Regions from separate parts of the Homo sapiens genome. Here region 1 is linked to region 2. The links come from fine-mapping of genetic effects on gene expression. A gene starts in region 2. The other region holds a variant in brackets. All regions are shown on one strand. Distances are between the middles of the regions.

The links. PIP is the estimated chance that this variant, and not a neighbour inherited with it, causes the effect. A credible set is the group of variants that fine-mapping cannot tell apart.
Region 1: its variant is the best candidate, but not a certain one, in a credible set for the expression of CD40 in fibroblasts (GTEx, PIP 0.75).

The regions. Positions count from the first base shown.
Region 1 is chr20:46,146,445-46,151,926 of GRCh38, forward strand. No RefSeq gene overlaps it. Among named protein-coding and RNA genes, the nearest start is that of CD40, 31 kb to the left of the region's middle. The variant A/G (reference allele first, on the strand shown) is at 3,329.
Region 2 is chr20:46,115,518-46,120,766 of GRCh38, forward strand. It overlaps CD40 (CD40 molecule), which reads left to right and starts at 2,797. Exons shown (of 9, transcript NM_001250.6): 1 at 2,797-2,877. The coding sequence starts at 2,827. RefSeq lists a cis regulatory region at 1,979-4,076, enhancers at 2,018-2,834, 2,600-2,659, 3,670-4,019, 5,064-5,153 and a silencer at 2,576-2,795.

The sequences.
Region 1 (5,482 bases), 31 kb after region 2:
TTGCCAAGCTGAATCCACAGGATTTTGCCTGCCCAGAGGGGGTACCTTTTTCTAATTCACACAGAATGGGCTAGTGGCAGCTCTACAGAGATGAAGATAGTTCAGTTCCTGATCCTCAAGGGCTCTAGGGATAGTGGGGGAGAAAAATATGCCTATGATGTATAAACATTCATGTGTGATTTTTTTTCTTTTTTCTTTTCTTTTTTTTTTGAGGACAGGGTCTCACTGTGTCACCCAGGCTGAGTGCAGTGGCACGATTACGACTTGCTGCAGCCTTGAGACCCCTCTCTCCCCAGCAGCCTCCTGAGGAGCTGGGATTACTGGTGTGCATCACCATGCCTGGCTAATTTTTCATTTTTTGTAGAGACAAGATCTCTCTATGTTACCCAGGCTGGTCTCGAACTCCTGGATGCAAGCAATCCTCCTGCCTCAGCCTCCCAAAGTCCTGGGATTACAAGTGTGAGCTACCATGCCTGGCTTAAACATTCATTCAATAAACATTTCTTGTTTACTGGCCACTAATGTTTGCCAAGCACTGTACTAGATTCTGGGAGAGAGAGAGATGAGTAATATATGTTTCCTGCCCTCCAGAAGCCGGGCTATTTGGGGGAGACAGAGATACTTACCTGGGTCTGCCCTTCCTTTTTCCCCTTCCCTTTTTTAATTCCAAATAATCTTCACCTGGGAGGTATGAATAACCGCTCTGGACTCTCACCATTCAAATCCTGGCTTTACCGTGTCTTGGCTGTGTGACCTTGGGCAAGTTATCTCACCTCTCTCTGCCTCAGGTTGCCTCTCTGTAAACTGGAGATAATGGTAACTGCATCCCAGGGTTATTATAATGATTAAATAAATTAGCACATGGAATTCATGCCTGACACGGAGTGCTCAGTAAAGGTTAGCTATTGTGTGACTGTTTCTTTTTTTTTTTTGAGTGCCTACTGTGTGCCAGGCCCTGAGTCCTGGGGATACAGAACTGTTACCAGTTCATTTCCTCTCCCTTCAGAGCTCACAGTGCGGAACACACAGAGAAACCCACCAACACACAGGCAGGCTCACACATACTCAGGCCTTGCTGAAAGAAAGTTGTGGTGGCAGGGTGTGGTTCTAGAATGAATGAGTCTTAGCTTGGAAGTCAGAAGATTTGGGGTTGTCTTAAGTCCAAGATAGGGAAACGGAATGATTGCCTGGTAAGGTAACGATCTCTACATCACTGGAGGTATGTAAACCAAAGTGTGAAGTTGCCAGAGAGAGGCATCTTGGCTGTGGGAGAAAAGTAGGTCAATTCTGGTACGATCGTCCCCTCCTGGGACAGTGAGACAAGCTTCCCAGGACCAGCTGGGGAGCCCTAGAGAAGCCCGGCACTGGCAATGTCCTGAGAGTCCATTCCTGGAGCCAAGGGACCCAGGCTTCCTACCGTGTATGTCCATTTCCTGGGCAAGGCACTGGATGGCAGGACTTTAAGCAGAGGCAGGAAAGGGCAACTTCCAGCCTCTTGCAGAAGGCCTGATTGCGGGGGCAGTCAGTTGGGATTGCTCAGCCCTGAAGCAGAGACTGAGAACCCCGCCTGCCTGTGTGACCACCATCCATGTCCACTCCCTCTCTGAGCTTCAGTTTCTCCACCGGTAAAATGGGAAGAGAATGGACCAGAGAGTATTTTTCTCCCATTCCCAAATTACAGAGTTTTTTTTTTTTTTTTTAAGACAGGTCTTGCTGTATCACCCAGGCTGGAGTGCAGTGGTGTGATCATAGCTCACTGCAGCCTTGACCTCCTGGACTCAGGTGATCCTCCTGCCTTAGCCTCCCTAGTAACTGGGACTATAGGCACAGGCCACCATGCCTGGCTAATTTTGTATTTTTATTTTTTGGTAGTAACAGAGTCTCCCTGTGTTGTGCAGGCTGGTCTCAAACTCCTGGCCTCAAGCGATCCTCCTGCCTGCCCTCAAGCGATCCTCCTGCCTTGGGATTACAGGTGTGAGCTGCCATGTCCAGTCCACAGACAACATGTATTGAGTGCTCACTACATGCCAAGCACTGGGCTAAGCCTGTTGCATGTAGCATCTTGTTTACATTTCACAATAATCAAGGGGGCAGGCATCTGCCTGCTTTACAGATGAGGAAACCAAGGCCCTCAGCAGTAAAGTAAATTTTCCAAGTTCACTCAGCATGGGAATGATAGACACAGGTTTGTAATCCAGGTCTTGTTGACATCGAAACCTGGGATGCTAGTAACCCTACCCTGCTGCCTGTCAGTCCTGCCAGGCTTTCCAGGACGGCCCCCACCCTGAGCCACATCCCCAGGAACACTCTGCCACTCCCTATCCCCCTCCTGGGCTCATACCATGAAAGCCCCATGCAGAGCCTGCTACTCTAGAGGGATATATATTATCTAAATTTGATAAGACAACTCAATTTCACTCCGTGTCTGTTACCGGCGATAAAACCAGGAGACTTTTATGACCCAGCATCCTCAGCAAGATTGTCAGGAACTTATTATACAAGGTCTAACTGGATTTCTCTCTGCAGATGGCTGGGAGCCATGGGCTGGAACGCAATTCGGCAACACATTTGGGGAAATAAATGCAAAATGCTTGTTCCAGAGACTTAGATAAGGCAGCAGGCCTCCAAGCTCCCCAAGAATCGGATCTGCTTTTCCTGGGCCCTGAAGGGCGATTTGGGGAGGATTTACGCTGTCGGAGGAGGAGGGAATGGCGGGCTCTTTCTCCCCTCATCCCTTGACTCTTCTTGCCCCAGGGAAGGAATGTGAGCGCACCTGAGACTTGGAGTTCAGCAACTGTAATTCCCTGAGAGGTAGCAATTCAGAGTAGACCTGGGGGTGGGAGGACAGGATGGTGGGCAGTGGTGAGACCAAGGTTATGAGGACTGTGTGCATTGAAAGAGGGGTGCAGGATGATCAAAACGATGGGGAACTGGGTCTTCACTAGCTGCTCGGGATCTGCCATAGAGTCACTCCTTACTGCCCTGAGAGGCCCGCGTCCTTCCCAAACACACCTCTAGGACTGGTGTGGCCCCCATAAACTGGGTTCCCAAACAGACCCCATTCCTTGGATGTGAGTTCACATCCAGATTCAGATGACCCCCGTACATAAGCTCACAGATACTCCAAGATTTTGAGGTTCACTGTGAGGGCGCTCCAAATTCATGGCTTACCTCAAATTCTGATCTCTCGCAGGCGTGGGCTCATAGACGGGCTTGCGGTCCATCTCAGCTTTCACAGCATCCATGCGATTTTTGCCATTGGAAGGAATGGCAACAACCACATTCACTTTTGCACCCACCTAATAGATCTGCCGAATCTTGAGGTTGG[A/G]GCTTTACAAGAGCCAGCCCCAAATTCAGGGTTCATTCTCTAGTGCAGACATCCCCCAAACCTCTGCTCACACACAGATCTGGCATAACCCCAGATTCAGTTAGCTGCCCAAGCTAGACTCCAGCCCTCTAGCTACCAGCAGCATCTGAGAGTTACCCCCTCAACAAGCTCATACCAAGCCTTGAGGATCTGGCACCTCCAGTCCCAGGCTCCGGTCCTTGTGCAGGGAAGCTGCTGCAACACCACTGATCTGGGAAGTTTGAGGTCTGCCCTTGCGCACCTGCCCTGTGACTCTAAGCTCTTTCTACGGGGCCAGGAAGGCGGCGGAGACATTTTTATCTGTCCCTGGGCTCCCCGATGCTTCAATGGACTCCAGTACCAGAAGCCCTTTTTTTTTTTGAGTCGGAGTCTCGCTCTGTTGCCCAGGCTGGAGTGCAGCGGCACAATCTTGGCCCACTGCAACCTCCGCCTCCCCGGTTGAAGCGATACCTCCTGCCTCATCCTCCTGGGAAGCTGGGATTACAGGTGCACACCACCACACCTGGCTAATTTTTCTATTTTTAGTAGAGACAGGGTTTCACCATGTTGGCCAGCTGGTCTTGAACTCCTGACCTCAGGTGATCCACCCACCTCGGCCTCCCAAAGTGCTGGGATTACAGGCTTGAGCCACTACGCCTGGCATGGGAGCTTTGTCTCATTCTTTCAGCCCTCCCTTACCTCTTCCCATGTAGAGTTCCATCCCAACTAGGTCCTTTGCCTCCAGTTTTTGGAGGGAAAGGGTAACATTTGCCAAGCATCCTCTGTTGTACCAGGGCCTGGCAAGTCTGTGCTTTCATTGAACTCTTACCACAACCTTTCAGGCTAGATTTTTATAATACCCACTTTGCAGATGAGGAAATGGAGGCACAAGGAGGTTAAGCCACTTGCCCAAGAGCACACAGCCCAGAAGAGTGGGAGCTTTGTATCTGCCAGGATGCTGCCCCAGGTCTTGGAGCAGAGCTTGGGAATGCCCTTGGGATTTGGAGTTCGGTGGCGGGGGTGGGGGGCTGTTGCCTAGGTGGCACGCTGGGGAGGGTATGCTGTTGCTGAATCTAAGCTTGTATTATTTCCACACTGGCAAAACGAATTATTTTCAGTAGACAGGAGGATGGGGTGGGGGTATGGGAGTGGAGGACATTGCGGTGAGACCAAGAGCACTGGCTGCCAGGGCCAGTCACTTGGGGGAAAGGGCAGGGGCTGGCCTTTGCCAGAAGACAGAGATGGATGGTCTGGATCCCAGGCTTAGGTTACCTAAGGGCAGACCAAGACTCAGCTCCTGCATTGGGGGTGGTGGTGGTGGTGTCAGAAATCACTGGAGAAGCCAGGAGGGGGGGCCTACCCCACCTTGGGTGAAGGCCAGGAAGTCTGTGGGGCCTCTGGAATACTAATGGCCTCCGGCGGGTCCTGCAGGATGCAGCAGGCAGGCTGGAGTCTATTTGTCTCTCCATTCTCAACACTGCAGTTTCCTGGAGAGGGGTGATGGGGACCAGGGAGTGAGGACGAGGCTTGGACCAGGGTCTTCGGCTGAACAAGAGCCAGGCTGCAGTGGGAAACACATGCGTGCTGGAACTGGGCTCTACCACTTCCTAGCTGTGTGACCTCAGACAAATCACTTCATCTCTCTGGGCCTCAGGTACGTGTAAACAGGTACAATGATGCTGACCTGAGGGTTGGTGAGGAAGGCGCACAGTGCGTGCTGGCTCAGGAGACGGCGCTCTCTGTTATAAAGCCGTTACCATCCTGCACGTAACAGGCAGGTCCTGAAAATCACCTCCAAGGGGGGTAGAGCCCGAAAATCCCCCAAATCCTCTGGCTAAGAGTGATTTTATTTTATTTTTTAAAAAGAAATAAGGAATATAATCCTCAAAAGATTTTCCCTTTTGGCTCTAAAAAAAAATCTAATATCTTCATTTCCATCCCCCCCTTTATAAGCTAATTTGTTGAAAATTAAAATGGGGAACTCACCAAGGCTGGCATTTTAATTGAATCTTGTCTGGTGTCCTCTCTAGGATTCCCTGGCTGGCGTCCTCCATTCAATCCTCCCTGCTCCATTTAGCCCGGTTCCCAACCTTGGTGGGGCCTCGGCGGGACCTTGGTGGGACCTTGGTGGGGCCT
Region 2 (5,249 bases):
GGAGGCTGTACTTAGGATGAGAAGTTGCTGAACCCACTCATTCATTTATTCATTCATTCAGCACCCATATATTGGTGTCCTATTATGTACCTAGGACTGGGATAGATCCAGTCCTGCCCTCAGGGAGCTCACAGTCAAATGGGACCAGGCAGAAGGAGTTATGAGCTGGCATGCTAAATGCTGTGGCAACACAGGGGAGGAGGCAGGGTGGGATAGAGTACCTACCTCTGCCTCAGGGAGTTGGGGAAGGTGTAAGAGGAGGCAACATTTAAACTGTTTAAGAAAGGAGAAGGAAAGGAAGGAAACATCAAGAGCAATGAGATAAACCGTAAGGAAAAAAGATTGTGTGCCTGGGAAGTGGGGAGAGGCTGAAGCCAGTGTGCATGGGAGGACGTGGCAGGAAGTAAGCATAGAAAGAGAGGTTGGGGCTGAGTGAGGAAGGGTGTGCTTTGCCAGGATAAGAAATTTGGATCATCCTGAGGGTGCAGGGAAACCCAAAGAGGCTTTTATGCAGGAAAGTGTCCCAGTCGATCAGATCTGGAGTTTATCAAGAGAATCGCAGCAGTGTAAAGAGTTGCCTGGCACATAGTAGGTGCTCAATAAATCCTGTGGAATGAGAGAGGCTGTTGGGACAGTCCAGATGAAAGATGGCACCCTCTGAATTAGGGCAGTGGCAGAGGTGACAGAAAATAAGGGATGGATCCTAGAGGCAGAATCCACAAGACTTGCAAATGTGCCCTTAACAGCAGAAGCCATGAGAATGGGGTTAGAAGTGTCCTCCTCTTCCATCCTCCCTGATCTGTGAGGTCTGGCCTCTTGTCCTCTTCCAGAAATTGAGAGCTTGGAGGGTCATCACCTCAACCGTTGTCTAGTTCAAGCTCCTAAGTTTTCCTTGGAGAAAAATTTAGGCCTAAGGGAACACAGTCCTTCAGAGGCAGAGGCTGCACCAGAACCCAGGTGTTCCATGCTGCAAAGCAGAGTGTTAACACTGGTTCAAGAACATCTTGAGGGCCAGGTGCGGTGGCTCATGCCTGTAATCTCAGCACTTTGGGAGGCCAAGGCAGGCGGATCACCTGAGGTCAGGAGTTTGAGACCAGCCTGGCCAACGTGGAGAAACCCCGTCTCTACTAAAAATACAAAAATTAGCTGGGCGTGGTGGCGCCAGCCTGTAATCCCAGCTACTCGGGAGGCTGAGGCAGGAGAATTGCTTGAACCCAGGAGGCAGAGGTTGCAGTGAGCCGAGATCATGCCACTGCACTCCAGCCTGGGCAACAGAATGAGACTCTGTCAAAAAAAACCCAAAAACCAAAAACCAAACAAACACCCAAAAAACAAAACGAAACAAAAAACAAAAAAACAAAAGCACGTCTTCAGAGTTCATGAACCCAGGAAATGTAGGCACAAGTGTGTGTGTTTCTGCAAAATGAGAGGGTCCCGAGTTTCCTAACATACTTAAAGTGTTTTATGATGCCACAAAAGGCTGGCCCACTCTTTTTTTTTTTTTGAGATGGAGTTTTGCACTGTCGCCCAGGCTGAAGTGCAGTGATGTAATCATTGCAATCATGGCTCACTGCAACCTTGACTTCTTGAGCTCAAGCGATCCTCCTGCCTCAGCCTCCTGAGTAGCTGGGACTACAGGTGTTTGCCACCATGCCTGGCTAACTTAAAAATTTCTTTATTTTGTAGAGATGGGGGTCTTGCCATGTTGCCAGGCTGGTCTTGAACTCCTGGCCTCAAGCAATCTCCCTTTTTGGCCTTCCAAAGTGTTAGATTACAGGCGTAAGCCACCGCGCCTGGCCCCCACCTTTATTTTTATTTTTATTTATTATTTATTTTTTTTTTTTTTGAGACTGAGTCTTGCTCTGCCTTCGAGGCTGGAGTGCAGTGGCACGATCTCGGCTCATTGCAATCTCTGCCTCTGCGGTTCAAGCGATTCTCCTGCCTCAGCCTCCCGAGTAGCTGGGATTACAGGCGAACGCCACTACATCCGGTTAATTTTTGTATTTTTAGTAGAGACGGAGTTTCACTATGTTGGCCAGGTTGGTCTCGAACTCCTGACCTCAAGTGATCTGCCCGCCTCGGCCTCCTAAAGTGCTGGATTACAGGCGTGAGCCACCGCGCCCGGCCCCACTCTTAATAAATGCCTGTCTCCAGGTGCTGGGTGGGAGGTGGGATGGAATGGAATGAGGTGAGGACGCATGGATGCATGGATGAATGGATGGGAAGTTGAGACGACGCGCCCACACGAGGGAATTTCCTTTGAAAGAGAGCGAAATTCTGAGTTGGGAAACTCTTCCTTGAAACGCCTCCCCATACCCCAGCTGTGGCCTTCCCGTTTTCTGCGTGGTGGTGTGGGGGGAACTTCCTCAGGCCTCTCCGCAGTGGAGCCTCTTTCGGTTCTGCCAGGATACCTAGAGGCAGCGGAGAGCGGGGCAGGGAGGGGAAAACCGTGAGGGTCCCTGTGGCAGGCCCCAGCACCCATGGGATCTCTCTCCGGTCGCAGGAAGCAGGCTAGCTCCTAGCCCGCCTCGGCTTGGCCTTTGTGGGACCTGGGGGCAAAGAAGAAGAGCTGTCTCTGGGACCATGCCTCCTCCCGTACACAGCAAGATGCGTCCCTAAACTCCCGGGGGAATTAGACTTGTGGGAATGTTCTGGGGAAACTCCTGCGCGGTGAATTGCTGGGGGCTCCGCCCCCCCGATAGGTGGACCGCGATTGGTCTTTGAAGACCCCGCCCCTTTCCTGGGCGGGGCCAAGGCTGGGGCAGGGGAGTCAGCAGAGGCCTCGCTCGGGCGCCCAGTGGTCCTGCCGCCTGGTCTCACCTCGCTATGGTTCGTCTGCCTCTGCAGTGCGTCCTCTGGGGCTGCTTGCTGACCGCTGTGAGTTGTTTTTGCCCCGACCAGACGGGAGTTGGGAGTGGGGAATGAGAAGGAAAGGGAAGGAAGACTTCGGGGAAGAGGCCTTCCTGGCTGATTTTTGTGGGGGCAGGAGGGTGGGTGGGAGCTGGGCAAGGTGCCCCCGCTCCTGGCTGAATGGGGTGGGCTGCCTCTCTCTTCTCCCGGGCTGGGGTCCCGGGAGCGGCCTACAGGGGCCGCTCAGGGAAGGCACTGGCTGCCCAAGCGTGCCTAGACGGCCTGGACGGGTTTAGGGAGCCTCAGAGGCTGGCCACACAGAGACTGGTAGGGGGTTCAGAGGGCGGGAAGTGAGGCGGACCAAGGGAAGGGGCGGGTCTGGCCCGTTTCCTGTCCCCTTCTTATTGTGGACAGATGCCAGCCTCTGTAAGTAGTTATCATCTCCTTGCCAGCTGGGGCTGCCTTCTTCCAGGGCATCTTGTGGGAACAAGAGATGGGTGCAGAGGCCCAGGTACTTTTGTGAGAAGGCAAGGAGCTTTTAACATCGCCTTCCACCCCGAACCGTATCTTGGGTGTTCCAACCTAGGAGGAATCCCCAGGGCTTTGCCTTTTTCTCCTGAATTTAAGATGACATAGGAGACCCCTGGGGAGATGAACAGTTTATGGGACACAATAAAGGGTTAGGAGACCAGAGTTCTGGTTGGCTCTGACAGGGCTGGTGATCAGAGGGCTGGAGAAACCAGGGGTTTCTCCAGGCACCAGAGGGGCTCAGAGCCAACCAAGCATATCTCCGGGATTTTCAGAAGCCTACACTTGACTCACTTTTTGTTTAAATGTATTTTTGTAGTTCCTCATTCTGGAGGCTGGGAATCCCCCAAGTACCTGGCTCCTTCATCCCAGCCCCTCTGGCCTCCCCCTACTTTAGAGGGCTGTAGATTCCTGCCTGAAGCCTGGGCAGGAATGACCCATGGTATCAAGGAAAGCAAGGGAAGCAGCAAGGGAAGAGAGGGAGTGGGGAGGCTGCTTTGGTCCCACAGCTTTCACTTTCACCTGAAGCAATGGCTCTTAGGGAACAGGGAGGCAGGGGGAGGGCGGAGCTGGAAAGAGGTAAAGGGGGGCCCTTGTGGTAGGAGTGGAGAAAGAGCCAGAGGAGGTGGGGTGAAGGGTGTGATCCAGGCTTCTCAAGAGCAGAGTTTGCCCTCATAACTCCCAACTTTGGCTCCAGGTAGAGGCTGGGCTGTGACAACAATGTCAGAAGCTATCTATTGAGGGCTTCTTGTGTGTCAGGCTCTGAGCCAAACACTGCCTGTTTTCTTTGTCTGATTTCTCACAACTCCCCCATTATACAGATGGGCAAATTGAGGCTCAGAAAGGGGGATTGTCTTGCCAAAGGTCTCATAGCTAGCTAATGGAAGAACCTGGTTGTGAATCTACATCTGCATGATTCCCGAGCCTGCCTCTCAGATAGTGAGAGTCTCCAAGCTCTGGTCCTGAGCTGTTTTGTGGCAGAAGGACCAGAACTATGGGGAGTGAGAACTGGAGATTGACAGACTTTTAGGGGAGCGTTTTATTTCTCATGTGTTTGAAGATGGTATCAAGGACTTTCCTATCTTTGGGAGTGTGGGAGCTCCACGTTCACAGGATGGTGTCTTGCAATGAGCTGGTGGGGGGCAGTAGCCTTTTCTACTTCCTTTCCCATTTTGGGTAAGACACATTTCTGTAAGTAATTTGCTGAGATACCCAGGTTGAATGAGAGCCACCAGTTAGGTAGGATTCTGGACAGCCAGCCAGGTAGCCGGGCTGCTTGCCATATATCATGCAAGCAGAAACAAATGAATGATGATTAAAATTGCCATTTAATGAGCACCTACTATGTTCCTGACACTGTGCTAGGCCATATACATGTATTCTTTCTTATCTTCGTAATCCAACCTGCAGGGCAGGCATTATTACTCCCATTTTAGAGATAGAGAAACTGAGGCTAAGAGAAGCAAAATAACTAGTAAGTGTTACAAAGTCAGGACTGGAGTCTAAAGCTGTCTGACTCTCAAACTTGTGTTCTTTTCACTGGCTGTTCCCAAACTGTGGGACAGTTTTAAGGAGCACATGGACATAGAATTAAACATACACTTACTTTACAGTTCTTTTAAAAATCCTTCTCATTTTTTCAAAGAGGAAGTCTCTGGAGCTAGAATAGAGTTAATGCCTCTCAAAGGCTTGCTAATCCTTCTTTTAAAACAAAAATCAAGAGCAGGCCTGGGAGGGCCTTCAACAAGCAAACAACCAGCTGGGTTTTAATAACCTTGTTTTGTTTCCCCAGAATTTATTTTTAGGGTTACCTTTTATTTATGAGAAGTGATACTGGTTCTTGTCTCTTGGCAATGATGTGAGGTTTACAT